Homo sapiens: one gene and its partners. The protein of the gene in region 6 purifies or fractionates together with the protein of the main gene of each other region. This does not show direct contact. Each region holds a gene or a part of one and is shown on either strand. Other genes may lie near its edges.

Region 1 (4,185 bases), on a different chromosome or scaffold from region 6:
TGCTTGGCTAAGGGGGTAACCACAGTCCTGTGCTCACCGTCCGTGCAGATCTAACTTACAGGTGTTTGTGAGCCATGGGAATATTCACCAATAATCAGAATGTTGTTAATAATGTGGAAGAAACCTCCATGAAATATCATTAAAACTTTCCTTCCTGTCTCAAGGGTAAATTTAATAATCTTATTCTCAAGTGAATCATATAAACGTGCTAGTTTTATACTAAATAAAATCTTTCTTTTTCCTGGTGAAAAATAATTTGATTATCTGAGAAAAGATGATGACTAGTCTCACTCTGGGATCTGACTTTCAGGAAAAACTGCTCTTGAAAATGCTCAAAGCACTGCGTTCCCCAAGACACAAGGCCAAGTGGGGGTGACATGGTCAGCATGCAGCCTGGACCTTAAGACAGCCAGACACATTTTTCTTTTTGGGTTTAATAAAAACCTTGTTTGCCAGTCGCTCTTTTCTGGGTGCTGGACTGTCGTCACACCTCTGCGCTCTTCCCAGTCTCTCCATGGCCTCCCCCGGAGCCCCGCTGTCCTGGCTCCCCTTCTTCCCTCTGTCTTGGCCAGGTCCTTTCCCCCATCTCTGCTCATCCTCACTCCTTCTGGAAAGCCGTTCAGGCTCGTGGTGAGCTCTGTGCCTCCTGCCGTCATCCACATGGTATCTTTGTGCTTCAGATTCTTGTTCTTGAGATCTCTCCACATCCCTGTGCTCTTTATCACTGCCGCTGTGTGACCTATGATTCAACACAAATGATCAGCAACTGCAGTAAACCGCCGGTTGGCTGCCCACCCTCCTTTCTAGACCACAGGTTCCCAGACAACAGGGACCCATGCGAAGTGCTCAGCGCTGCACTGCTGAGGCTGCACTGCGATGGGCACACAGCAGGCGTTGATAAAAACCACTACAAAGAGGAATAAATCATAGTAATAGTATCTGTCATTTCAGTTGAGTGACAGATAGGCAATATGCCTTATACTAAGGTACTTTTTTTTTTTTTTTCTGAGATGGAGTCTCGCTCTGTTGCCCAGGCTGGAGTAAAATGGCGGGATCTCAGCTCACTGAAAGCTCCGCCTCCTGGGTTCACACCATCCTCCTGCCTCAGCCTCCCGAGTAGCTGGGACTACAGGTGCCCGCGACCACGCCCGGCTAATTTTTTGTGTATTTTTAGTAGAGACGGGGTTTCACTGTGTTAGTTAGGATGGTCTCGATCTCCTGACCTTATGATATGCCCATCTTGGCCTCCCAAAGTGCTGGGATTACAGGTGTGAGCCACCGTGCCTGGCCATGCTAAGGTACTTTTTATACATATTTTCTAATTCTCAATAACCCTCCAAAGTAAATACCTTCTTTTGACCAGGCATGGTGTCTCACGCCTGTAAATCCCAGCACTTTGGGACGCCAAGGTGGGTGGGATCACCTGAGGCCAGGAGTTGGAGACCAGCCTGGTCAACATGGTGAAGCCCCCTCTCTACTGAAAATACAAAAATTAGCCAGGTGTGGTGGCATGTGCCTGTAATCCCAGCACTCTGGGACGCCAGGGGCAGGCAGATCATTTGAGGTCAGGAGATTGAGAGCAGCCTGGCCAACATGATGAAATCCTGTCTCTACTACAAATACAAAAATTAGGCCAGGCACAGCGGCTCACACCTGTAATCCCAGCACTTTGGGAGACCAAGGCAGGCAGATCTCCTAAAATCAGGAGTTCGAGACCAGCCTGACCAACATGGAGAAACCCTGTCTCTACTTAAAATACAAAATTAGCCAGGCATGGAGGGGCATGCCTGTAATTCCAGCTACTCAGGAGGCTGAGGCAGGAGAATTGCACGAACCCAGGAGGCAGAGGTTGTGGTGAGCTGAGATCGCACCATTGCACTCCAACCTGGGCAAGAGGAAAACTCCGTTTCAAAAAAACAAAAAAAAAACAAAAATTAGCCAGGCATGGTGGCGGGTGCCTGTAATCCCAGCTACTTGGGAGGCTGAAGCAGAATTGCTTAAACCTGGGAGGCGGAGGTTGCAGTGAGCCGAGATCGTGCCACTGCACTCCAGCCTGGGCGACAGGGCGAGACTTTGTCTCAAAAATAAAATTAAAATAAAATAAAATAATAAAACAAAATAAAATAAACCTTCTTTTCTACAGATAAAATGACTGAGACTAAAGTGGTCCAGTGGCTGTCCTGGGAGCCCAGGTGCACATCCATCATGATGTGCAGAGTAAAATTAACTGACATTTAATAATGGCAGATTAATTATCTTTATGCATTTATCAGAATATTAAATGAATAGTAAATAAATGGCTGCTTCGCTCATTTGCCAGGGCTGTTGGGGACCATAAGGATCTGTAACCAAGTATGAATTCACAGCAGACACGTGGCAGTAGGTCCTGCTGTGTCATCAACTGTCACAGTAACAACACCGGTAACATCATCACAGTGCTTCACAATCATGGATTTGATAATCATATATAAATTTTATAAACAAAGCAATAAACCAAAACTCCCAAGAAGTAGAAAAAATACTTCATCAACTCTGAACGAAAGGCAGTGAGAAATCACACCTACGACTATGGCTCTGGGAAGCCGGCAGCCTAATCGCATTAGTCTTCCCACCTAAAATCCACGTCCATCATCCCCTGTGGGCCAAGTGGCCCTGGGCACCAGGAGACTGTGGGTGGCGAGAGGCAGTGAGTGGGCAGGAGTCCCGGAGGGGAAGGTAAGCCCAGGTGCCTGGGGCCCTGAGGATGGTGGATGCCAGGAGCAAGAGGGACAGGATCCCTCCTGACTGGCATCTGGCTGGTCTCTCTGGCCCACCGGGCAGATAATGCTGTGTCTGTCCCTTTCGCAGATGAGCTCCCTCCATAGAGCTGCACTGTCATATGCAGCAAAGGAAAAGAAAAAGGGAGGACCCACAGTGCACAGCCAAAGCTGCTGGTCAAGATCCACAGCCAGAGGAGCCAGGGACAGCTTCAACCAAAGGATCACAGCACTTAAAATTCTGTTTCTCTATCACAAAAGATCTGCCAGACCTAAAAGAGGGGGTTCCCAAATATGCAATTCTGTAGATAAATTGCAAGGGGGATAAAAGAGCAAAGGGCAAGATATCACAAACACAGAGAAAAATAAAAAACAAAAAACAAAAAGAAAGACTGGGAAGACAGATCCTGAAGACCTGACATGCAACAGCAGGAATCCAGGAGGCGGCTCAGGAGTAAAAGGAGGACATGGAGGCAAAAGCAAAGCAAACAACAGGAAGAAACTCCCGATCTGAAGACAGACTTGAGACTGCAGACAAGACGAGTTCACTACGTTCCTGCCATGCTGATGGGAAATGAAGGCTAACGTGTACTCGCACACCCTGGAAAGTCTTGGATTCCAAGAACAGTGTGAAATAGGCATACTCATACTGACAAAGCCTACGTCACCATGACTGGGAGCTGACGTGGTCATAACAATGAAAGCACGCTCACGTCTCCTGGGGCTCCTCCAGCGAGCCTTCCATGGGCCTGGCTTTTACGACTGCACCGGGGGCACAGGATTCCTGCTTGCCACCTCCAGTATCAATCTCCTCTCCTCTTTCTTTTGGTTTCTCTGTGGTTGGTTCCTCTCCCTTTTCTGGTTTCTTAAGAAGCTGAGAAATTACAATGTTAGTAAAGTATCACCTTGAGAGCATATTTTAAAAGAAGCTGTTAAATAAATAATTACAAATATACCCCAATATTGAAGCCAAATGTTTGCACAGCAAAGAATTAAAGCTAAAGGTCCAAAAATGAGGTTTTTGGTTTAATACGTGGTGGAACATTCAGTGAATGAAATATTTTTTAGTCATGAAAAGTAAGGTAGGTTAATGTGATGCAAAGATGTTCACGTAATGAATAAAGGGCTAAAAAACAGAACATGCACCACAATCTCACTTACACTTTTCTCTTTTGAGACAGAGTCTCGCTCTGTCGCCCAGGCTGAAGTGCCGTGGCGCACTCCCGGCTCACTGCAGCCTCCGCCTCCAAGGTTCAAGTGATTCTCCTGCCTCCACCTCCTGAGTAGCTGGGACGACAGGCATGCGCCACCATACCCGTCTAATTTTTTTTTTTTTTTTTGAGATGGAGTTTCACTCTTGTTGCCCAGGCTGGAGTGCAATGGCACGATCTTGGCTCACTGCAACCTCCTCCTCCCGGGTTCAAGTGAT
Region 2 (4,185 bases), on a different chromosome or scaffold from region 6:
CATGCCAAAATGTAAAGACCATCGAGACTAGGAAGAAACTGCATCAACTAACGAGCAAAATCACCAGCTAACATCATAATGACAGGATCAAATTCACACATAACAATACTAACTTTAAATGTAAATGGACTAAATGCTCCAATTAAAATACACAGACTGGCAAATTGGATAAAGTCAAGACCCAACAGTGTGCTGTATTCAGGAAACCCATCTCACGTGCAGAGACACACATAGGCTCAAAATAAAAGGATGGAGGAAGATCTACCAAGCAAATGGAAAATAAAAAAAGGCAGGGGTTGCAGTCCTAGTTTCTGATAAAACAGACTTTAAACCAACAAGATCAAAAGAGACAAAGAAGGCCATTACATAATGGTAAAGGATCAATTCAACAAGAGGAGCTAACTATCCTAAATATATATGCACCCAATACAGGAGCACCCAGATTCATAAAGCAAGTCCTGAGTGACCTACAAAGAGACTTAGACTCCCACACATTAATAATGGGAGACTTTAACACCCCACTGTCAACATTAGACAGATCAACGAGACAGAAAGTCAACAAGGATACCCAGGAATTGAACTCAGCTCTGCACCAAGTGGACCTAATAGACACCTACAGAACTCTCCACCCCAAATCAACAGAATATACATTTTTTTCAGCACCACACCACAACTATTCCAAAATTGACCACATACTTGGAAGTAAAGCTCTCCTCAGCAAATGTAAAAGAACAGAGATTATAACAAACTCTCTCAGACCACAGTGCAATCAAACTAGAACTCAGGATTAAGAATCTCACTCAAAACCGCTCAACTACATGGAAACTGAACAACCTGCTCCTGAATGACTACTGGATACATAACGAAACGAAGGCAGAAATAAAGATGTTCTTTGAAACCAACGAGAACAAAGACACAACATACCAGAATCTCTGGGACGCATTCAAAGCAGTGTGTAGAGGGAAATTTATAGCACTAAATGCCCACAGGAGAAAGCAGGAAAGATCCAAAATTGACACCCTAACATCACAATTAAAAGAACTAGAAAAGCAAGAGCAAACACATTCAAAAGCTAGCAGAAGGCAAGAAATAACTAAAATCAGAGCAGAACTGAAGGAAATAGAGACACAAAAAACCCTTCAAAAAATTAATGAATCCAGGAGCTGGTTTTTTGAAAGGATCAACAAAATTGATAGACCGCTAGCAACACTAATAAAGAAAAAAAGAGAGAAGAATCAAATAGACACAATAAAAAATGATAAAGGGGATATCACCACCTATCCCACAGAAATACAAACTACCATCAGAGAATACTACAAACACCTCTACGCAAAAAAACTAGAAAATCTAGAAGAAATGGATAAATTCCTCAACACATACACTCTCCCAAGACTAAACCAGGAAGAAGTTGAATCTCTGAATAGACCAGTAACAGGAGCTGAAATTGTGGCAATAATCAATAGTTTACCAACCAAAAAGAGTCCAGGACCAGATGGATTCACAGCCGAATTCTATCAGAGGTACAAGGAGGAACTGGTACCATTCCTTCTGAAACTACTCCAATCAATAGAAAAAGAGGGAATCCTCCCTAACTCATTTTATGAGGCCAGCATCATTCTGATACCAAAGCCGGGCAGAGACACAACCAAAAAAGAGAATTTTAGACCAATATCCTTGATGAACATTGATGCAAAAATCCTCAATAAAATACTGGCAAAACGAATCCAGCAGCACATCAAAAAGCTTATCCACCATGATCAAGTGGGCTTCATCCCTGGGATGCAAGGCTGGTTCAATATACGCAAATCAATAAATGTAATCCAGCATATAAACAGAGCCAAAGACAAAAACCACAGGATTATCTCAATAGATGCAGAAAAAGCCTTTGACAAAATTCAACAACCCTTCATGCTAAAAACTCTCAATAAATTAGGTATTGATGGGACGTATTTCAAAATAATAAGATCTATCTATGACAAACCCATAGCCAATATCATACTGAATGGGCAAAAACTGGAAGCATTCCCTTTGAAAACTGGCACAAGACAGGGATGCCCTCTCTCACCACTCCTATTCAACATAGTGTTGGAAGTTCTGGCCAGGGCAATTAGGCAGGAGAAGGAAATAAAGGGTATTCAATTAGGAAAAGAGGAAGTCAAATTGTCTCTGTTTGCAGACGACATGACTGTATATCTAGAAAACCCCATTGTCTCAGCCCAAAATCTCCTTAAGCTGATAAGCAACTTCAGCAAAGTCTCAGGATACAAAATCAATGTACAAAAATCACAAGCATTCTTATACACCAATAACAGACAAACAGAGAGTCAAATCATGAGTGAACTCCCATTCACAATTGCTTCAAAGAGAATAAAATACCTAGGAATCCAACTTACAAGGGATGTGAAGGACCTCTTCAAGGAGAACTACAAACCACTGCTCAAGGAAATAAAAGAGGATACAAACAAACGGAAGAACATTCCATGCTCATGGGTAGGAAGAATCAGTATCGTGAAAATGGCCATACTGCCCAAGGTAATTTACAGATTCAATGCCATCCCCATAAAGCTACCAATGACTTTCTTCACAGAATTGGAAAAAACTACTTTAAAGTTCATATGGAACCAAAAAAGAGCCCGCATCGCCAAGGCAATCCTAAGCCAAAAGAACAAAGCTGGAGGCATCATGCTACCTGACTTCAAACTATACTACAAGGCTACAGTAACCAAAACAGCATGGTACTGGTACCAAAACAGAGATATAGATCAATGGAACAGAACAGAGCCCTCAGAAATAACGCCGCATATCTACAACGATCAGACCTTTGACAAACCTGAGAAAAACAAGCAATGGGGAAAGGATTCCCTATTTAATAAATGGTGCTGGGATAACTGGCTAGCCATATGTAGAAAGCTGAAACTGGATCCCTTCCTTACACCTTATACAAAAATCAATTCAAGATGGATTAAAGCCTTAAACCTTAGACCTAAAACCATAAAAACCCTAGAAGAAAACCTAGGCATTACCATTCAGGACACAGGCATGGGCAAGGACTTCATGTCCAGAACACCAAAAGCGATGGCAACAAAAGACAAAATTGTCAAATGGGATCTAATGAAACTAAAGAGCTTCTGCACAGCAAAAGAAACTACCATCAGAGTGAACAGGCAACCTACAAAATGGGAGAAAATTTTCGCAACCTACTCATCTGACAAAGGGCTAATATCCAGAATCTACGATGAACTCAAACAAATTTACAAGAAAAAAACAAACAACCCCATCAAAAAGTGGGTGAAGGACATGAACAGACACTTCTCAAAAGAAGACATTTATGCAGCCAAAAAACACATGAAAAAATGCTCATCATCACTGGCCATCAGAGAAATGCAAATCAAAACCACAATGAGATACCATCTCACACCAGTTAGAATGGCAATCATTAAAAAGTCAGGAAACAACAGGTGCTGGAGAGGATGTGGAGAAATAGGAACACTTTTACACTGTTGGTGGGACTGTAAACTAGTTCAACCATTGTGGAAGTCAGTGTGGTGATTCCTCAGGGATCTAGAACTAGAAATACCATTTGACCTAGCCATCCCATTACTGGGTATATACCCAAAGGACTATAAATTATGCTGCTATAAAGACACATGCACACGTATGTTTATTGCGGCATTATTCACAATAGCAAAGACTTGGAACCAACCCAAATGTCCAACAATGATAGACTAGATTAAGAAAATGTGGCACATATATACCATGGAATACTATGCAGCCATAAAAAATGAAGAGTTCATGTCCTTTGTAGGGACATGGATGAAATTGGAAATCATCATTCTCAGTAAACTATCGCAAGAACAAAAAACCAAACACCGCATATTCTCACTCATAGGTGGGAATTGAACAATGAGATCACATGGACACAGGAAGGGGAATATCACACTCTGGGGACTGTGGTGGGGTGGGGGGAGGGGGGAGGGATAGCATTGGGAGATATACCTAATGCTAGATGACGAGTTAGTGGGTGCAGCGCACCAGCATGGCACATGTATACATATGTAACTAACCTGCACAATGTGCACATGTACCCTAAAACTTAAAGTATAATAAAAAAAAATTAAAAAAAAATTAAAAAAAAAAAAGAAAGAAAATACAATGTGGTCTCAGGAGAAAAGAGAACTAGAAACT
Region 3 (4,185 bases), on a different chromosome or scaffold from region 6:
TTAAATCATGCCTTGTGGCTTTGGGCGCATCCTTCTTGTCTGATCCCCTCCAAAGATCAAGAGAGCAACCCAACTCAGGAAGTGCAGGCACTTTTTACAAATAATCCTTCCTTTGGAAGACTGCTGGGAAGTGGAAAGACTGATTGTTGCTTGACCTAGGCTTGGGATGAAAATTTAAAGCTTGCTGTCTGTCTGTCTATCTATCTATCTATCTATCTATCTATCTATCTATCTATCTATCTATTTAAAGGGTCTCACTCTGTTGTCAAGGCTGGAGTACAGTGGTGTGATCATAGCTTACTGCAGCCTGAAGCTCCTGGGCTCAAGCAACCCTCGTGCCTCAGCCTCTTGAGTAGCTGGGACTACAGATGCATGCCACCATGCCTAATTTTTTTTTTTTTAATTTTTTGTAGAGACAGGTGCTCGTTATGTTGGCCAGGCTGGTCTTGAACTCCTGGGCTCAAGTGATCCTCTCGCTTCGGCCTCCCAAAGTGCTGAGATTACAGGTGTGAGCCATCGCACCTATTATATTATCAATATTACATGTTATGCGTTACATATTATAATATTAATATAATATATAATATTATATTATATAATATATAATATATATAATATTATATATAATATATATAATATAATATAATAATAATATAATATATAATATATATAATATAATATAATATATTATAATATAATATATAATATATATAATATATATAATTAATATATAATATATAATATATATAATATAATATAATATATAATTATAATATATAATTAATATAATATATTAATTATTACATTATACTGTTATATTACTACTGTATTATTAACATAATAATATAGAACTCTTTCATTAGATTTTATAAGTGAAAAAAAGGTGAAATTTCTGTGTAAAAGTGATGGATTGAACACCTCTCTAGTTTCACTCTCTCTTGAACCTCAATTACATCTTTTTTTTAAAATGGCTTTTTTTTTTTTTTAAATCAGAGGCAATATGATAGGGACAGAACTTTGGAAACTGGAAAGCAGCTGGACATGCTAATCCCACCCCACCCCTAAAAACCCATGAATCCTAAGCCAGCAATTGAGGGATGCTGAGAACCGGTAGCAAAGTCCTCAAAAGGAGCTGGCAACACCAGGCCAGTTTTGCAGAAGGCAAAATAAAGACGAACTGAGGGCTGTTTCAGCAGCAGCTAGACCTCCAAATCTCGTTTCCCCTCTCCCCTTACTCTTCCCCCACCCCCAGTGACTGGGGGTTTATTCTGTAGACAGGGTGAAACAGAAAGGGGCCGCTGGCTTTGGGGACATCTGGCCCATCTGAAGATGAGGGAGGGGGATTCTGAACCCCAAGTGGGTACTGAGTGCGTCTTGCTGGCTGAATGCCTGACAGCTCCCTGCCTCTGCCCCTGCAGCTCCCAGAAGCTGGCAGCCTGGCCCTGGCAGCCTGGCCTTCACCCCCCGCCAGGAGGCCAGAGGAGTTTTCTCAGGGGGATTTGACCAGCCCCAGAGGAAGAACGAAAGATGGTGACATCTGGCACTCCCCAACGTATAAAGCAAGATGCAAAACAGCATGTACAGGCCGGGTGTGGTGGCCCCGACCTGTAATCCCAGCACTTCAGGAGGCCAAGGTGAGTGGATCACTTGAGGTCAGGAGTTTGAGACCAGCTTGGCCAACATGGTGAAACCTCGTCTCTACTAAAAATACAAAAATTAGCCAGGCATGGTGGTGCATGCCTATAGTCCCAGTTACTCAGGAGGCTGAGGCAGGAGAATCACTTGAGCCCAGGAGGTGGAGGTTATAGTGAGCCAACAGCGTGCCACTGCACTCCAGCCTGGGTGACAGGAGTGAAACCCTGTCTCAAAGAACAAACAAACAAACAAACAAAAACAGCGTGTACACTAGGCTGCCCTGCTTGCTGGGGGTGGGGGGTGGCGGGGCAGAAAGAGGAAATAAAGTTAAAAATTAAAGTTAAACATACAGACATGCAAATTGACCTGTATATGTGCAGAGCTGCGCTGTCCAATCCAGAAGCCACTAGCTACATTAGGTTGTTTACATTTCGATAAATTAAATGACAAATTCAGTTCCTCAGTCATACTGGCCTCATTAAGCATTCTGTAGCCATGTGTGGCCAGTGGCCTCTGGATTGGACAGTACAGATAAGAACCATTTTCTTTCTTTTTATTTTTTTAGACAAGAGTGTCACTCTGTTACCTAGGCCAGAGTACAGTGGCATAATCTCAGCTCACTGCAACCTCTGCCTCCTGGGTTCAAGCGATTCTTGTGCCTCAGCCTCCCGAGTAGCTGAGATTACAGGCACCTGCCACCATGCCTGGCTAATTTTGAATTTTTAGTAGAGATCAGGTTTTGCCATGTTGGCCATGCTGGTCTCGAACTCCTGCCATCAGGTGATCCATCTGCCTCAGAGTCCCAAAGTGCTGGGATTACAGGTGTGAGTAACCATGCCTAGCCTGGATAAGGAACATTTCTATCATTGTAGAAAGTTCCACCGGGCAGTGCTGGTCCATAGGATAGAAAGCGAGATATGATTTATAAGCTGCTAATAACTCTGCAGGGGAGGGGACCTGGGGGACAGGATGTGATAAGACTTTTCACCACATACCTTTTTTAGAACCATGTGAATGTATGACATATTCAAAAAGTAAATATTTAAATGTTGCTTCACTAATCTGTCTCTCCTGTCCTAGAACTTCTTCCTCCTTTCTTTCAAGAGCATTAAGGGGCTGGGCACGGTGGCTCATGCCTGTAATCCCAGCACTTTGGGAGGCCAAGGCGGGGGGATCACCTGAGGTCAGGAGTTCAAGACCAGCCTGACCAACATGGAGAAACCCCGTCTCTTCTAAAAACACAAAAATTAGCATGGTGGCGCATGCCTGTAATCCCAGCTACTCAGGAGGCTGAGGCAGGAGAATCGTTTGAACCCGGGAGGCGGAGGTTGCGGTGAGCCAAGATTCCGCCATTGCACTCCAGCCTGGGTGACAAGAGCGAAACTCCGTCTCAAAAAAAAAAAAAAAAAAAGTATGAAAGCAGGTCAAAACACAGACGCAGGAGCCAACCGTGGTTTAGCCGAGATTCCAAGACAGCCTTCAAAATGAAAAGACAACTCCCCTTCCAGGGAAGGCTCTGATCTATGAATGAGCTGTTCTGCACAGGGACAATCCTGCAGAGGGTGGGTTCAGGGAAGAACAGCTGAGGCTTATTTATGTCATGGTGGGTAGTGGAGGAGAGTTACTAGATCAGCAAAGACCAGTGGAGTAGGAAGTGCATGTGTGTTTGTCCCCATGGTGAAGGTCATGGGTCTGGATCCAGGCTGTGTGGGTCCGAAGCCCAGCTCTGTCACTAAATAGCTGTGTGACTTTGAGCCAGTTACTTGACTTCTCTGTGCTTCAGTTTCCTTGTCTGTAAAATGGGGATGAGAATGGTGGACTATTTCCTCATAGGGCTCAGGTGAGATGAAAATGAGTTATAGTATGTAAAGCACTTAGGGTAGTGCCTGGCATATAGTAAGTGCTTGATAAACATTAGCTAAAATTATTATTATGTCGGGACAGAGGCCTGGGCTTGGGCTGGTGGCTTGAATCAGGGCTTCTTACTGGGCATGAGATGAAGACAGGAAGAGTGTGCCAGAGCTGAATCTCGACTTTACCCTGCCTTGGGACCTCTTCCACACACAAGGGAGACAAAGGCACAGCCAGGAGGAGAAACCAGTTCTTCCCCTACTTTCTCATCTTTCTTTCCTCTTTAAACTTCAAGTTCACCCCAAACTTGAAGTTGGATTAAAGCCGCAGAGATTCCTTATGGAGCAGCAGCCATCCTCACTGTTCCTCCAACACAAGCTTGCTCGTGCCTCTGGGCCTTTGCACTGGCTGTTCCTTCTGCCTAGAATTCTCTTCCCTCTGATGACAGAATGAGGGTCCCTTGCCTCTGTTCCATCTCCTCTGCTTCACCATCATTTGCTAAAGAGACCTTCCCTGACCAATTCAAACAGCACCCTTAGAACTGTCCCGCTCCAGGCCCCGGCCTTTTTCTCCTTGATGATAACTTATCGCTCCATCACATTACAGGACATAGCACTCTTCCTTCTCCTAATTCTCCATCTGCATGGTGGGTTCAGGTGTGTTCTCCCCTTGAGAACATTCATCAAACTAAGTATTTAT
Region 4 (4,185 bases), on a different chromosome or scaffold from region 6:
TCAATATTTACTAATTTATGTTGTTGAATCAATAAATGGAAATATCATTTAAAAAATAATGTTAATTAGAGAAAGCAGAACACAAGAAAAGTATATAACATACTCCTGATTTCATTGAAAAAGAAACCACTCTTTTCTCCCTATAGAGAGGGAAAGCACTAAGGCAGAAATTCATCAAAGTATCAATAGTGGCTGCCTCTTGGTGGTGGCAATAAGAGTAACTTTAACTACATTTTTTATACTTTTCTGCATTTCCAAATTTTCTACAATGAACATGTGATATACTTATAAGCAGGAAAAAAAATCCCTTAAAGTGGTTGAGTGGAGGAGTTTGAACTTTACTTGTTTTGTATCTGCCAAATTTATGCCAATTTACAGTGAGAGAAGAAATGTAGATAACACAAGAATCAAACAAAAAGAACTCTTTGAGATAACCAAGAGTTGGTTTTATTTGCCTACTTCAAAAGGTTGTTTTGTGAGTTCTTAAGTAACTATAAATATTTATACAGGTGTTGCTACAATGCCAGAAAATTAAAATAATGAGGATAATTATTTATATTACAAAATATTAATGATATCACAAGATCACATAAGCATTGTACAATTCCACTAGATACATGGAAACCTTCTCTGTGCATTTTTTTTTTGAGACAGAGTTTCGCTCTTGTTGCCCAGGCTGGAGTGCAATGGCGCGATCTCGGCTCACCACAACCTCCGCCTCCTGGGTTCAAGCGATTCTCCTGCCTCAGCTTCCTGAGTAGCTGGGATTACAGCCATGTGCCACCACGCATGGCTAATTTTGTATTTTTAGTAGAGACAGGGTTTCTTCATGTTGGTCAGGCTGGTCTCAAACTCCTGACCTCAGGTGATCCGCCTGTCTTGGCTTCCCAAAGTACTGGGATTACAGGTGTGAGCCACCGTGCCCGGCCTCTGTGCATTTTAATTATGGTTCAGTTTCTAAAAATTCTGTTTGCAAGCCACTTTTCAGGGCAGCATATCTAATGTGTTCAGCAAGATAAGATTAAACCATATAAAGTTATTGTAAAACTTGGGGTAGCTGGATTTGATACATACACTTAAAACACAACTGACAAAAATCATATCTAGTTACTTCAGTTGTCCTCAAAGGACCATGGAGTAGAAGCTGAAACATATAGTCATCTTCATCATTGTCATTATGACCATCATCTCATTTTTTTAGATTTCAGCATAATTTTATATATAGCCATGCATCATACATTCTGAGAAATGCATTGTTAGGCCATTTCATCATTGTGTGAACATCAAGATGTGTACTTCCACAAACCTAGATGGTGTAGCCTACTGCACACCTAGGCTATGTGGCATAGCCTATTGCTTCTAGGCTACAAAGCCAGACAGCATGTTACTGTATTGAATACTGTAGGCAAATGTAACACAATAGTATTTGTGTATCTAAACGTAGAAAGGGTACAGTGAAAATATGGTATAAAGATAAAAAATGGGATACTTGTGTAGGGAACTTATCATGAATGGAGTTTGCAGGATTAGAAGCTGCTCTGGGTGAGTCAGTGAGTCAGTGTTGAGCGAATATGAAGGCCTAGTACATTACTGTACACTACTGTAGACTTTAAAAACACTGTACACTTAAGCTATACCTAATTTGTAAAAACCATTTTTTCTCTCTCCAATAATAAGTTAACCTTATCTTACTATAACTTTTTTACTTTATAAACTTTTTAATTAGGCCGGGTGTGGTGGCTCATGCCTGTAATACCAGCACTTTGGGAGGCCGAGGCAGGTAAACCACCTGAGGTCAGGAGATTGAGACCAGCCTGGCCAACATAGTGAATCCCCATCTCTACTAAAAATACAAAATTTAGCTGGGCATGGTGGCACATGCCTGTAATCCCAGTTACTTGGGAGGCTGAGGCAGGAGAATTGCTTGAAACTGGGGAGGCGGACGTTGCAGTGAACTGGGATCACCACGCCACTGCACTCCAGTCTGGGAGGCAAGAAAGAAACGTCATCTCAAAAAAACAAAAACAAAAACAAAAACAAAACAAAAAACCCCCAAACTTTTAAATTAAAAAAACCTTTTTGACTCTTTTTGTAATAGCACTTAGCTTAAAACACATTGTATAGCTATACAAAAATATTCTCATTATTTATAACATTATTTTATAAACTTTTTTCTATTTTTAAAACTTTAAATTTTTTCTTTCCTTTTCACACTTTTTTGTTAAAAACTAAGATACTCACGCCTGTAATCCCAGCACTTTGGGAGGCTGAGGCGGGCGAATCATTTGAGGTCGGGGGTTCAAGACCAGCATGGCCAATATGGTGAAATCCCGTCTCTACTAAAAATTCAAAAAATTAGCTGGGCATGGTGGTGAGTGCCTGTAATCCCAGCTACTAGGAAGCTGAGGTGGGAGAATTGCTTGAACCTGGGAGGCGGAGGTTGCAATGAGGTGAGATTGTGCTGCTGCACTCCAGCCTGGGCGACTGAGACTCTGTCTCAAACAAACAAACAAACAAACAAACAAAACTAAGATACAGACACATTAGCCTTAGCCTACACAGGCTCAGGATTATCAGTATCACTGTATCTATTTACACATCCTGTCCGTTGGAAGGTCCTTCGGGGCAATAACATGCATGGAGCTGTCATCTCCTGTAATAACAATGCTGTTTTCTGGGATACCTTCTGAAGGACCTGCCTGAGGCTGTTTTACAGTTAAACTTCTTTTCACTTTTTTTTTTTAATTAAGTAGGAACACACCCCAAAATAATGATAAAAAGTATAGTACAGTAAATGTATAAACCAGTAACAGTTGTTTATTATCAAGTATTATATACTATACATAATTGTATGTGCTATACTTTTATACAACTGGCAGCACAGGTTTGCTTACACCAGCCTCATCACAAGCACATGAGCGATACATTGTGCTACAACAACATTGCAATAGCGATGATGTCACTAGGCTGTAGGAATTTTTCAGCTCCATTATAATTTGTGGGACCACTGTCATATATGTGGTTTGTGGGTGACCAAAATATTGTCAATGTGCTGCATGGCTGTCTATTATCTATTTTATCCTGGTAAGTCTGTTATTATCATCACTTTCATGAGAGAACTAAGGTATGAAACAAATAAATGGCTTTTCCAAGGTCACACACACAGCAAGGTGTAAAATTCACATCTCTTAATCATTGATTTGCTGTTCTTATATCACTATCTATAAAGTGGAACTGGATTCTCAGCATTAATAAAACTAATAAAATCTTGATATTGTATAGAGCTTTATATTTTACAAATTCTTTGACAGATTATCTAATTTCAGTCTGAGAACATTACTATGAGATAAAACCACGAGGTGATACTGAATTGAGTCTTTATCAAACAGCTTCTGATGTCTTATATTGTGGCAGGCAGTATCTCAGGTGGCTCTCAATGATTTGGTTCCTGTAGGTATTCCTCCCACTGTGTAATCCCTTCCCCTTGAATTAGGCTGAAACTAGTGACTTGTCTCTAATGAGGAACACAGCAGAAGCCATGGGATATCACTTCTGATATCAGGTTACAAAAAGACCTTGGCTTCTATTTTGCTATCTTTCAATCTTAGCCCTTGCTCCAAGGACAGCAAGCTGCAACATCTGCATGAAGCACTCTGTTTTGTTAGTAGCCCTATAGAGAGGTCCATGTGGTAGCAAAAGAACGTCTCCAGCCAGCAGCCAGCTGGGACCTGAGGCTTGTCAACAGCCACGTGAGCGAGCTTGGAAGCGTTACCTTTCCCCAGTTGAGCCTTGAGATGTCTGCAGTCTCGGCTGAAACTTTGCAGCCTGTGAGTGACAGACCTGAGCCAGAGGACCTAGCTAAGCCATACCCAGATTCCCAACCCATGGAACTATGATCATAGAGATAATAAAAATCTGTTGCTTTAAGCCATTAGGTTTTGGGGTAATTTATTATTTAGCAATAATGAATACACACATTTAATCCTCATAAATAGCCCTATGACATAGTACTGTTATGTGAGCCCCAACAAATGAGGAAACTGAGGTTTAGAGATGTGAAAGCAGTTAATGAATGGCAGAGCTGGGATATGAACCTGGCTTTCTGGACTCGAGAGCTTGGGCTTGAGCCCCATGCTGTGTTACCCCCTAGTAGTATAACACAAGGTGCAGTTTGACATCACAGGT
Region 5 (4,185 bases), on a different chromosome or scaffold from region 6:
AGAGGAGACATGGACTTACGGTGGCCACCACGGAAACCTCAGCGTATGGCTCCTAAAAACCAACTTTAGGCCTGCATGGTGGCTCCCGCCTGTTATCTCAGCACTTTGGGAGGCTGAGTTGGGAAGATTGCTTGAGTCCAGGAGTTCAAGACAAGCTTGGACAATATACCAAGACCCTGTTTCTACAAAAAATAAAATTAACAGGGTGCGGTGGCACATGCCTGTAGTCCCAGCTACTCAGGAGGCTGATGTGGGAGGATCACTTGAGCCCAGGGGTTGGAGGCTGCAGTGAGCCATGATTGCACTCCTGTACTCTAGCCTGGGTGACAAGAGCGAGACCGTGTCAAAAATCAAAAATAAAAATAAAAATAAAAATAAATAAAATAAAAACTAACCTTAGGAAATAGAGGAGATCCTATACCAGCCCTCCAGGAAGCAAACACCAGCCTCAGCAACTTTCGCCAAGGCTCGCTGCCTCAACTCACGCGAGACTTTTAAAACCCACAATGTCCAATGGTGCCATCACCTGGTTCCGCTCTGAGCCAGCACCACCCTTAGATGCTTCCGCTTCCTGAGAATCAATGTCTTTTTCACAAAAGGAACAAGTGGCTCAAGGAACAGTGTTCCCTGCTGAGGTCAGCACAAAACGGCGACCAGTCGGCCTCCACCCTAAGCAGCCTACTCTCAGTCACGTCTGCTTAGTCCTGCAGAAACCAGAAACCAGCCCTTACCACCCCGCTCAACAGACGCCTCGGGGTGGGCAAGGTCCCTTAGTTATGACAGTAGAGAACAAAGAACAACAGAAAAAATGAGCAAAGTGGACATCATCAGAACTAAGAGTGCCACCAAAACGGTGGAAAGACAGTTCACAAAGCGGAACAAATATCTGCACATCAGGTATCAGAGAAACCCCTAAAATCCACAACCAAAATCCAAACAACCCAATTCAAAAACAGGCAAGAGACCTGAACAGACACTTCTCCAAAGAAGACTTACAAACGGCCAAGCCGCAGACAGAAAATGCTGAATGTCACTAGAGAAACCACAATCACAACTACAATGAGATACGAATTCACATCCACCCCAACAGCTCTCATTAAAAAAATAATAATAATAAAGCAACAAGTGCTGGCGAGGAGGTGGAGAAGCCAGAAGCCGACAGCGTTCCTCGTGGGAATGGCAACCGTGCAGCTCCTCCAAGCTGGAAACAGAACCACCAGCACCCAGCAGTTCCACACTCAGGGCGAACCCATGAGGACTGCACACAGGCATTCATACCACTTCCAAGACAGGGTCGCTACTTCTTTCTGGAGGAAGACCTTCTGCTGAACAGGTTCTGAGCTCCTGGGACACAGGTCCAGCCCCCAAGGCCACCCACCCCGGGCACATCCCACAGATCCTCCCCCTTCTCCTAAGCCTGACCCCCACCCAGTTGAGCCTCACAGCCCAGCCAGGACCCCGCGCAGGCAATTTGGTCAGTGCTGTGCTGGCCCGACTCCTTGAGACAAGGGGACACTATGTCTTCACCATCCACGTAGCACTCTCTAGTCAAGTGAGGTGACTGAGGACCTGCATTTTTACTCTTAGGAGGCTGCCAGGGCTGTTTTCTGCTTTTGTTTGTTTTGTTTTTGAGACAGGGTCTTGCTCTAGCACCCAGGCTGGAGTGCAATGGCATGACGCCATCCTCACTACAGCCTTGACCTCCCGGGTTCAAGCGATCCTCCTGCCTCAGCTTCCCGACTAGCTAGGACCACAGACATGTGCCACCACACCTGGCTAATTTTTCTACTTTTTGTAGAGATGGCATTTTGCCACGTAGCCCAGGCTGGTCTCAAACTTCTGGGCTCAAGCAAACCACCCGCCTCAGCCTCCCCAAGTGCCAGGTCTCCAGTGTGAGCTCGGGCACCCGGCTGCTCTCCCCTCTGCACACCAGGACGATGTCATAATTCAGGATCAAGGTTTGGAAGTGGATGCAAGCTCTCAGCTGAACAAGTTTATGTTCAGTAAATCCAGACGTCCTCCTGTGCTGGGGGCTGTGCGATCCCAGGAGTTAAGGAGGACATGGACTCTCCCCAGAGGGCTCAGGACCACCTGCCTCCACCCACAGGGACTCAGCGGTCTCAGGAACAAAGAACAAGGCCAAAAATGGAGAAGCTGCAGGAGCCTGGTGGCTGGCTGGGGTCTCAAATCAGGAGGCCCGATGCTGACACTCACTTCCCCTTGGCCGCGTGCTTGGCTGTAATCTTGTCCAGCTCCTTCCTGCCAGTCTTGAGGTCATGCCTGCCCTCAATGGAGCCCGTCTGCACCGCGTTCTCAGGGTCCCAGAAGGTGATCTGTGAGTTCAGTGTGGCCACAGCCAGCTCCGCACCATCAGGGCGAAAAGTCACAGCCAGAGCTAAACAGAGATGCAAAGTAAGGCCCAACGAAGACCCCAGTCTCCCGCAGGCAGGCCACCAACCACCCTTGGCTGGAGACCAGGCCGTGCCCTGGCACCCCTAAGAGACCAGCGCCTGTTTGGTCTGGTACACAAGAATCTCCTCCCAGGAGAAGCTCCAACCCAGACAGGTGAGGAACAACTCAGCGCCAGTGAAGAGCACCAGGCGGTCCAGCTGGGGCCACAGGACCCACAAAGGCCGATGGAGGGGGCGCTGGGAAGGTGAGGCTGATGGGTGAGTGATGGTGGTTACTGAGGGCGGCTGGACAGACTAGAATACAGAGCCTCTGCAAAGAAGCCACATGTGATGCCAAAAGCCTGGCCAATGCCAGGCCTGGGGGTGGGGTGAGGCAGCGGGAAGCAGAGAGAACCAGCCTCCTGGGATGGCAGAGTCTGTCCACACCCGGACATGGATGGGCTGGGTCTTTGTGAGCCACGTGGTCTTTCAACACCGCCGCTGAGGCATTGACAGCCACAGACCATATGAACACAGGAGGCCACGGCTGCCTCTAGTACAGCCCCGTCAGAAAGACAGGCAGTGGCCTGAGGCCAGTCTGCAGATCCCTGGGCAGCCGCATCTGGCTTCCGGGCCCACCTATGGCCCCCTCATCCTTCTCCCAGTCTGCAGATTCCGGGACTGGCCGCATCCAGCGTCTGGGCCCCCCATGGTCCCTGTGTCCTTCTCCCAGTGACACAGCCCTGGCAGAGCTCCAAAGCAACTCCGAAAATCAGGAAGCAGCTGCGGCAGCAGCCCTTCACCCTCGGGGAGCTGTTCTCTCCTGCCTGGCGTACTTGCCCACAGAGCGGGAGCCCCACAAGGACTTGTGGAAGCCACGCTGGCCTGACTCGCCAATCTGCTGTCTCCTAGGTACTGCCAACCTCAAGGGCTGCCACACCAGCAGGTCTGGATAAAAGCCACCCCCTGCTTCCCACCAGAAGGTTCACACCAAACCCACAACGAGGAACAGGGCAGTGGGTGTGACAGCATGCTGCTGGTCCCCAGGCCGCTGCTCCTGCCTGCTGCCTCGTGCTCACCATCAGAGGTCAGGGCCAGCGTCTCCTTGGTCCTCCAGCTGTCAAACATGTCCCATAGGCGCACTGTCTTGTCCCAGGAGGCACTGGCCAGGACGGACTTCATTGGGTTAAAACACAGACCACTGATGGGCCCTTCGTGTCCAGACAAAACCTACCGTAGAGCAAGGAGGCGTGAAGAGTGGAGGTGGCGGCCGAGGCGGCTCTCTGGGCAGCTCTGGGCCAGGGGCATGGGCCCTCGGAGTGTAACCTCAGCTCCCTGCGCTCCTCTCCCAGGAGACAGGAGGGCCCCTCCTGAGCCCCAGCCCAGCCCCTCAGGGTGCTTACATCAAGGAGCCTGCCTGTCTGCATGGACCACACGAAAATCTCAAAGGAGTCCTGCGCCCCTGCAGAGACGATCTCACCGCTCGCATCCACCGCCACACAGGAGAACTGGGTGGGGCGTGGAGAGGTGAAGGTGCGGAAGTTTCGGTACCTGCAGAGAAGAGGCAAGGTCAGAGTCACGTGCCAGGGTCCCCTGCCCCAGCAGCTGCACTGCAGCCTCACCCTCCACCTTCACCTCTGCGTGGGGGAAGCCTGCCCCAAGCCAATCCGGAGCAAAAACATCACCTGTGAAGGTCAAAGGCTCGCACGGTCCCGTCCATGGATGAGGTCACCACAACGTAGCCGGTGGCAGTAAAGGTCACACCGGTCACCCCGCTGGAGTGCTCCGTAAAAGT
Region 6 (4,185 bases):
CTTGGGGAGGCCAAGGCGGGTGGATCACATGAGGTCAGGAGTTCTAGACCAGCCGGGCCAACATGGTGAAACGCCGTCTCTACTAAAAATACAAAAATTAGCAGGGCATGGTGGCAGGTGCCTAAAATCCCAGCTACTCGGGGGGACTGGGGCAGGAGAATTGCTTGAACCCGAGAGGCGGAGGTTGCAGTGAGCCAAGATAGCGCCATCGCACTCCAGCCTGGGGGGACAAGAGCGAGACTTCATCTCAAAAAAAAAAAAGAAAAAAAAGAAATGTCAGTTGGAACAACAAACACAAGCAGAATAGCATTCGCAGAGCCTTGTACAGTGGTTTGACGGACAGTAGGTGCTCAATATGTTGATAATAAACGAATCTCATTCCAGTTCTGCCACTAGCTGACCTTGGACAGTCATTTAACCTCTTTGAGCTTCTTATATAAAATGAGAGCTGAGTTAAAATTCATTTTAGTTCAAAAAAAGTTTGATGGGCCAGAAGCGATGGCTCACGCTTGCAATCCCAGCACTTTGGGAGGCCTAGATAGGCAGATCACTTGAGGTCAGGAGTTTGAGACTAGCCTGGCCAACACGGTGAAAACCTGTCCCTACAAAAATACAAAAATTACCTGGGCATGATGGCAGGTGCCTATAATCCCAGCTACTGGGGAGGCTGAGGTGGGAGAATCACTTGAATCCGGGAAGCGGAGGTTGCAGTGAGGCAAGACTGCGCCACTGTACTACAGCCTGGGCAACACAGCGAGACTGTGTCTCAAAAAAAAAAGTTTGATGATTTTAATATACATTTATACATTTTTAGGAGCTGACCTGGAAACAGTTTTTATGCTGTCTATGCCTTTTTTTTTTTTTTTTTTTGAGATGGCATCTTGCTTTGTTGCCCAGGCTGGAGTGCAGTGGTGCGATCTCGGCTCACTGCAACCTCTGTCTCCTGGGTTCAAGTGATTCTCCTGCCTCAACCTCCGTAGTAGGTGGGATTTAGAGGCACCCGCCACCATGCCCAGCTAATTTTTTGTATTTTTAATAGAGATGGGGTTTCACCATGTTGGCCAGGCTGGTCTTGAACTCCTGACCTCAGGTGATCCAACTGCCTTGGCCTCCCAAAGTGCTGGGATTACAGGCATGAGCCACTGCACAGGTCCTTTACGCTGTTTTTTAATGGAAATTTAACCTAAACTTAACTTGTCAACAACGCCTGAGGAGAAATGTGGGCAAAGCAGGAAGGACAGCCAAATTAGAATTAACCCTGAGGATCAAGGGAATGACAATAACAGCTGGCTCATCGTCTCATCCAAGAGTGAGAAAAAGAGTGAAAAAATGCTCAACATTTTTAGTAAAACTATGCAAGGCCCAGTACATTGTACTGTTTCACATACCTTAACCTTCAAAGGACAAATTTGCCTTAAGAATTCAGTACAGCCAAGTTTTGTCTGTGTTTACTTCCTTTCAAAATAGGAGATTTTTATAACCTCTCATTATTGCTAAACTTTGCCAAGACGTCAAGAACTAAGGTTTCTTTTCAATTACAGTATACTGCCACCCTTATCCTAATGCTGATAGAGTGCTCCCACTTCTCCACCCCACCTCTTCCCTGCCACCCTCAATATTAGCTCTTCAGTCTTTTAATTAATTGCACCTTTTTCACTTATTATAAATCTCAAATCCCTTACAGAAGACAGAACAAAATATATCGTTTTAGGAGAGAATACTAGATGCTATATTTACAAATTAACATTTTTAAAATACAACCAGTTTTGTGGTTTAAAATCTATCAACACAGCCGGGCACGGTGGCTCATGCCTGTAATCCCAGCACTTTGGGAGGTGAGGCGGGCAGATCACGAGGTCAGGAGATGGAGACCATCCTGGCTAACACAGTGAAACCCTGTCTCTACTAAAAATACAAAAATTAGCCAGGCGTGGTGGCGGGCGCCTGTAGTCCCAGCTACTCGGGAGGCTGAGGCAGGAAAATGGCATGAACCTGGGAGGCGGAGCCAGCATGGGCGACAGCGAGACTCCTTCTCAAAAAAAAAAATCTATCAATACAAGTTGATACTGGCCCCAAACTAATCTCAATTTGGAATCAAGTTCAATTCTTTAAATGTCTCCACTCAATACCCCCTTAATCTTTCTGAACTAGTTTTGGCAGAGAGTCTACCATTGGTAACTAATCCTCATTTTAAATACTCATCTCATTTTCATTATCAATAACCATCCAAATCCTCCACAGTAATAGAAATGAGATACTTTGTGATCCTAACACAACAAAAAGAGATATTTCTTATTGGAATTGGGGTTATAAACTTATGACTGTTCCCAAAACGTACCCTGCGCAACAGTCTATAAATGTTAACATCCAAGTTGTTTATTTCAACCTCCAACTGGTTTCTTTAAAGTTCTTAAATGTCTTTTACAAAACTATCAATGGTCCCCATGTATCATAAGTGCAGAAAGAAAACACAATATATATTTTAGAATTTAAATCATTTAAATAAATTGGTTGCACAAAGCTCTCTTGGCGGAGAATAAAGAAAATCAAAACTTACCTGAAGTTATTAATTTATTACAGCTACTTATGCTTGCATCATCTTCTACAATTCGGTTTGTGCTCTTTTCTTTCCCAAGTAAAGTGTCCTCCAAAGGGAAGCATTTATCAGAAACGACAGTGTCTTCAACGACCACATGACTAATTTTGCTATTAGCTTCAAGTACTGAAGTGACCTCTTCCAACTGAGCAGCTTCACTAGATTCTGAATAAGAGGAACACTTAACCTGGGCTAAATTCTTTGAAGAAACTGGTAGAGACTCATCATCACTATCAAATCCAAAAGGATCTCCAGTACTTTCTTCTTCCACTTTAGGTTTCTTCGGAATTTCTTGGATATCTGGTTTGAAATTGGGCCTCTTCTGCCCTAATTTAGCCATAAATGTGGTCTCTCCCCATTTTGTGCTAAGGGTAGTCCGTTTGTTGGAAAAGACTTCATCGAATTTTGAACTGCCATTTCCACCTTTCCTACTGTATGTTTTCCCAAATCTGGATGTCATTTTGACACCAGTTTCATATTCTCTGTGAAAAAAAATTTAAGAAAACATATAATCATCAAATACAAGTGTTAAACAGTGCATATAAAAATAAAAACCTAGGGATTCTTCCCTCATGACTTTTGACACTCACCACACAGACTTTTAAATAAACAAATATGAGGAAGGGGTATAAAGAAAGGCTGATTTATTACCCTACATGCTTCCATGTCAATTTTCCTCCACAATGAGTACATATTCCTACGCTACTTACAAAGTAAAAAAACTTAATGATTAACCAACTTATAATACGATATCCATAAAGCTAACTTAAAATGAAGCATATTAAGTTCCAAATGAATTAATTTACTATTCTTATAAACATCATTTTTACCTTAAAAAATTATCTGTATAGAGGCTGGGAGGCCGAGGCAGGCAGCTCACTTGAGGCCAGGAGTTTGAGACCAGCCTGCCCAACACGGTGAAACCCCATCTCTACTAAAAATACAAAAATTAGCTGGGAGTGGTGGCACGCACCTGTAATCCCAGCTACTTGAGAAGCTGGAGCAGAAGAACCGCTTGAACTCAGGAGATGGAGGTTGCAGTGATATAATGATAACCTGTATAGGGTAATTACTTATATAAAATCTTAAGCACAGAATGTTAGTTTTTTTCAGGGCCTCAGAAATATCCAATACTTGATTAAATTTAGTTCTTTGAAATTTCATGGCACTAATTCACATGAGAAAAAAGGTCCCCAAAATGGTGCTTTTTCTCATGTTTTACAACCTGCAGCTTTTAACCCAATCTTGAAGATTCTGCTTCTTGGTGTAATGTAATTTGCGCTGTGACTTTAAAAATGTTCCTTAGATGGTCATCTCCCTAGGGAAAGAAACTATCCTTATCCTATCTGCCTTGTCCCGATAGTGCTGTGCTCATTTGCTGAGTTATATTTTCTGGGGCTAGTGAGCTCCAGCATATTACACTGTTTCATGGATTAATACAGACATAGAAACATACAACTTTTATTTTCCTTTTCAATTTATAAATGGCAAATCGATTCACCTGATTTATCTACTTCACAGGACAAAAAAAAAAATCTTTAGGGCAGTAAATCAAGAGTCAAACATTTTTTAAAACAAGTTACTTGCAT
Region 7 (4,185 bases), on a different chromosome or scaffold from region 6:
ATATGTGTTAAGGGGGCTGTCAGCAAACCAAGATCTAGGGAACAAGAGAAAGATCTGTGACATGACATCCAGCAGATAAAGTCCAAGGCAGGAGACTCCGCCCTGCCCCAAATCCTCCCTCCTCCACAGAGGTAACAATGTGCCACCACTGATGGTCCACTGTGATGGCTGCCTGGTAACGCCAAGAACCCCTAAAAAGAAATAAGATTAGTCATTGTCTCAAGTTACCTGTTCCACTGACAGATGAAAACAATCAATGGCAGAATCCGTTTACTTGGCATTTTTCAAAATTAAAGAAAAAAAGAGCCATAAAGGGCCTCAGATTGTGAGAATAGCTTTTAATTTAAAACAATTGAAGCAATAAATCATCCATCTCTCTTTCCATCTCAGGCAAATAATCTCCCAAAACATTTGATACAGTTTAACAACAACTGTGACTAGTGCAAAATAAAATAAATACAAACTCTTTCAGGAGCCAACATCAAAACCTGCTGGACAGGTGGGCACAGGAACAGACTCAGCCTCTGCCAAGGCTGAGACAAGCGGCACATCAAGAGTGGCAGGATTTGTGCAGTGTTTCAACACACCCAGCTTTGAACAGACTCAACAATACCTGGGGAGGGGAAACCACAAGAGGATTTTGCCTACAATGAAACAAATATGCCCAACACCCTCAAGTGGCTAATATCCTTGGTACCTAGAAGATGCTAGAAGAGCAAAGGTAGCAGCTCCCAGGCAAAGCTGAAGACAGGCAGTTTGGGGCTCATTTGCTTTTGTCTTTTAATTGGGATCATACATATATATATTGGTTTTTCGGCAGAAAAAAAAAATCTGCTTTCTGGGAGATGTTCTGTGCCTCACAGTGCTCCTGACTCCAGCAAAAATATTTGTGTTGTTTCTGTCTATTTAGATACTTTGCAGAATTGCGTTTCCTATTTACGGATTTCACTGCCTACCCCACACCATGTAAGTCTAGAGTGGGGCTGTCCAATAGAAGTATAACGTTATCCACATGTCTAATTTGAAGTTCTTTAGGGGCCACATTTTTAAAAAAATAAAAATGGGTGAAAAGAATTTTAATTTCAATTATATAAATATATTAAATTGTTAATATTTTACTTAGTACATCCAAAATAGTGTCATTTCAGCATGTTATCAATATGAAATATTGGTGAAATATTTTAAATTCCTTTTTGGTACCAAGCCTTCAAAATCTGGTGTGTATTGTATGTGTACAACACAGTCTCGATTTGAACAAGCCAAACTTTGAGTAGTCATCGCCACATATGGCTGTTGACTGCCACATTGAATAGCACAGGTCTACCGAGTCTTATGCAAACTCTTTTAGAGTGATTTATGGAGTGGAAAATCTCTGTAACACTGTGCAGGTGATCTCAGACACCAACTCAAGAGTACAGAACCTTGTTCTATAGCGTAGGATTTCTTTTATCTAAAGGACATTATCACACTTTATCTAATCCCATCCCCTGGTCCTGCCCCTGCCCCCTGCCATCTCCCCACAGAAGGCATGTACTGATGTGATTTAGCAGCAGTGATGCCTACAAGATGACAAGGACGGCCTTTCTGTGGTAGACAATTTTGTCAGCACTTATTTGGGGATCACAGCTCTAGCTAAATTAGAATTTTGTTTCCCATCCTCTTCCAGAATTTCAAAATATTCTATAAAGGTGACAGATGTAGTTGAAGGCAGTTCTGAGGCTTTTCTAGGAGGACACTTTAAATGGATTTTTTGTTTTGTTTTTGAGGGGGATGGAGCCAAAGTACCTCATGGACTAGAAAGTTGTTTTTTTCAAGAGTAGAAAAAAAGTGGGGCTGGACGCGGTAGCTCATGCGTGTAATCCCAGCACTTTGGGAGGCTGAGGCAGGTTGAGGTCAAGAGTTCAAGACCAGCCTGGCCAACATGGCAAAACCCTGTCTCTACTAAAAATACAAAAATTAGCTGGGCGTAGTGGCGTGCGCCAGTAATCCCAGCTACTTGGGAAGCTGAGGCAGGAGAATCACTTGAACCCGGGAGGAGGCTGCAGTGAGCTGAGATTGCACCACTGTACTCCAGCCTTGGCAACACAGCGAGACTCCATCTCAAGAAAAAAAAAAAGTGGGATGATTACCCAAAAAAGTATAGATAAGTGGAGCAGGAATACAAACAGAGGGGTCGTGGGGCCACTAAGAATGACACAGGTCCTCAACTGGGGAGTATAAGCTGTAACAATGCAAAAATATAACATCCAAACCTCTAAGTGATCCCTCACATTTTACGTGTCAGACCCTAGTGGTAACCACAGGAAAATAAAAATAAAATGTTAGGGCAAGAGAGGACTTTGGAGCTAATCTAGTCTAACCCACTTGTTTCAAATGAAAAGGCCCAGAGAGGTACAGTGATTCAGTCCCACCTCACTTAGAGTGGAGTCAGGATACAGACCCAGGTGCTCTCACTATGAATTGCAGGTAAGGCTCTGTTCAGGTAAAGGGAATAAATGACTCAGGGAGCAAGAGGCTCGAGCTATCCCCGCTGGACTTCCTATAGCCCAAAGTAAGCACTGGGAAATGTCAGGCACATTCTCTTGCAGGTAGGAGAAAGCAGCCTGGTCAATTCCAAAATATTGAAGCAACGTTGATGTAAAGTGTCACTAACACATGATTCTTCCAATAGTCTTTTCTGCATACTTTTTTTTTCTTTAAAAGAAAATCCCAATCTGAACCAAACTGGATTTCTGATTAGTTATATGGGCATTTAGATCAATTGGCAAAATAAAAACTTTGATACATTACCTTTTCCAAAGACATATTCATTGGAATTCTACATAAATGGATATCAAAAGATATTTACAGGAAGAAAGTGCTGTCTTTCACACAGACACCCATATACAGGGAGAATTTCACAATTAGACCACCATGCCTCACATAGAGGACTGCTAACAGACTGATAATGAGTTGACAAAATCCACACGTTATTCCACTTTTCAGTCACAAATAATCGTGTCTACACAAGTGTAAAATTAAGCAGTACATTCCAGACTTTTATAGGGGAACCTGCCTTGTATATATTGAGATACACATATAAATATGCTTTTAAGCAAGTAAGAAACCCATTATTTACTCCAGTTTTTCCCAACTCTCAATCTGAAGTAAAGAATAGCACATATACAAAACTTTGCCTTGTAGAAATAGCCCTTTGTGTTGTGGGGCAGAAGAAAAGGCAGCCATAGCACAATTTTTTTACAACATGTCTAGGCATCAAAAGGGCTAGTTAATGAAATCAAACAATTTATAGCCTATAGTCTTAAATATTGATTTTACATCACTGATTTTTAAAAGTTTTATTACAAAATTTTTATTTTATTCAAAATACACATGCTATCTTTGTCCACATTTCAATCCAAACCACCCAGTCACCCCCAATTCCAAAAAACAGGCCTTTGTTTTATAACATCGCTGAAAACAAGCCATTTTTGACGTGGGTTTGGAGTCATTATTCTATGACACTCACTCTGCCCTAAGGGGACTGGATTTTGTAAGGCTGCTTACTGTGGGGATGTCCACGGGAGTCAGTGACTCTCATAACAGAGTGGGACTGCTTTAGGAAATCCAAGTTAACATTAGGAGGTGACACCAGTGGGCACACTTTGGTAGAAAAGTACTGCACCGTGAGCTCCCTCCTTCTGCCAATCTCATTTGTTCCCAAATTGAGGAAAACAGAGGAGAAAAGGCAGGGAGCACCATCTACTACAACCCACCATGGCATACCACATTCTACTCATTGAAGGTTCACTGTAACCAATCTCACTGTATCCTCAAAGCATGATTGAAAGAGAGGGCAGGTGTCATCATACCATTGTTCAGATGAGGACAGTGAGGCACAGGACGGATGAAGGACTTGCCCAAGGTCCACAGTCAGCTAGGAGCAGCACCCAGGTCTCCAGGCCATGGGCCTTAGACACCATGTCTCTCGGTCACATGGCACCAAAGGATCACCTATGAGACAGGGACCCCCATCACACCCAGAATCCTGATTGTTCACAACTCACTACATCCTAACCCAATGTCTGTGCTTTGTTTCACCTGGTTGGTTCTGTTTATTTTCCTACAGTTTCTAAAAAGATCCTTTCAACCAAACAAATACATGTTAAACAGACAGCAATAAATTCTTTTTCGTTTGACCAAATA

What was found.
Region 1: the proteins of WAPL (region 6) and UPF3A purify together in Homo sapiens (affinity purification with mass spectrometry; one large-scale study listed by BioGRID and IntAct). This does not show direct contact.
Region 2: the proteins of WAPL (region 6) and RIC3 purify together in Homo sapiens (co-immunoprecipitation; one large-scale study listed by IntAct). This does not show direct contact.
Region 3: the proteins of WAPL (region 6) and ZSWIM9 purify together in Homo sapiens (affinity purification with mass spectrometry; one large-scale study listed by BioGRID and IntAct). This does not show direct contact.
Region 4: the proteins of WAPL (region 6) and HTR1E purify together in Homo sapiens (co-immunoprecipitation; one large-scale study listed by IntAct). This does not show direct contact.
Region 5: the proteins of WAPL (region 6) and PWP2 purify together in Homo sapiens (affinity purification with mass spectrometry, with the first as the bait; one large-scale study listed by BioGRID). This does not show direct contact.
Region 7: the proteins of WAPL (region 6) and USP13 purify together in Homo sapiens (affinity purification with mass spectrometry; 2 studies listed by BioGRID, with this or other methods). This does not show direct contact.

The regions. Positions count from the first base shown.
Region 1 is NC_000013.11:114,298,285-114,302,469, reverse strand, and holds part of UPF3A (regulator of nonsense transcripts 3A), read right to left. Parts: intron 3,631-4,185; coding exon 3,470-3,630; intron 740-3,469; coding exon 445-739; exon of another isoform or gene 419-444; intron 1-418. UniProt on the Homo sapiens protein: Involved in nonsense-mediated decay (NMD) of mRNAs containing premature stop codons by associating with the nuclear exon junction complex (EJC) and serving as link between the EJC core and NMD machinery.
Region 2 is NC_000011.10:8,141,076-8,145,260, forward strand, and holds part of RIC3 (protein RIC-3 isoform a precursor), read right to left. Parts: intron 1-4,185. UniProt on the Homo sapiens protein: Molecular chaperone which facilitates proper subunit assembly and surface trafficking of alpha-7 (CHRNA7) and alpha-8 (CHRNA8) nicotinic acetylcholine receptors.
Region 3 is NC_000019.10:48,183,999-48,188,183, reverse strand, and holds part of ZSWIM9 (uncharacterized protein ZSWIM9), read right to left. Parts: intron 1-4,185.
Region 4 is NC_000006.12:86,943,579-86,947,763, reverse strand, and holds part of HTR1E (5-hydroxytryptamine receptor 1E), read right to left. Parts: intron 1-4,185. UniProt on the Homo sapiens protein: G-protein coupled receptor for 5-hydroxytryptamine (serotonin). Also functions as a receptor for various alkaloids and psychoactive substances.
Region 5 is NC_000021.9:44,120,387-44,124,571, reverse strand, and holds part of PWP2 (periodic tryptophan protein 2 homolog), read right to left. Parts: coding exon 4,076-4,185; intron 3,942-4,075; coding exon 3,794-3,941; intron 3,621-3,793; coding exon 3,470-3,620; intron 2,396-3,469; coding exon 2,215-2,395; intron 1-2,214. UniProt on the Homo sapiens protein: Part of the small subunit (SSU) processome, first precursor of the small eukaryotic ribosomal subunit.
Region 6 is NC_000010.11:86,515,014-86,519,198, forward strand, and holds part of WAPL (wings apart-like protein homolog), read right to left. Parts: intron 3,079-4,185; 5' UTR 3,057-3,078; coding exon 2,558-3,056; intron 1-2,557. UniProt on the Homo sapiens protein: Regulator of sister chromatid cohesion in mitosis which negatively regulates cohesin association with chromatin. Involved in both sister chromatid cohesion during interphase and sister-chromatid resolution during early stages of mitosis.
Region 7 is NC_000003.12:179,785,540-179,789,724, reverse strand, and holds the end of USP13 (ubiquitin carboxyl-terminal hydrolase 13), read right to left. Parts: 3' UTR 324-4,185; downstream 1-323. UniProt on the Homo sapiens protein: Deubiquitinase that mediates deubiquitination of target proteins such as BECN1, MITF, SKP2 and USP10 and is involved in various processes such as autophagy, endoplasmic reticulum-associated degradation (ERAD), cell cycle progression or DNA damage response.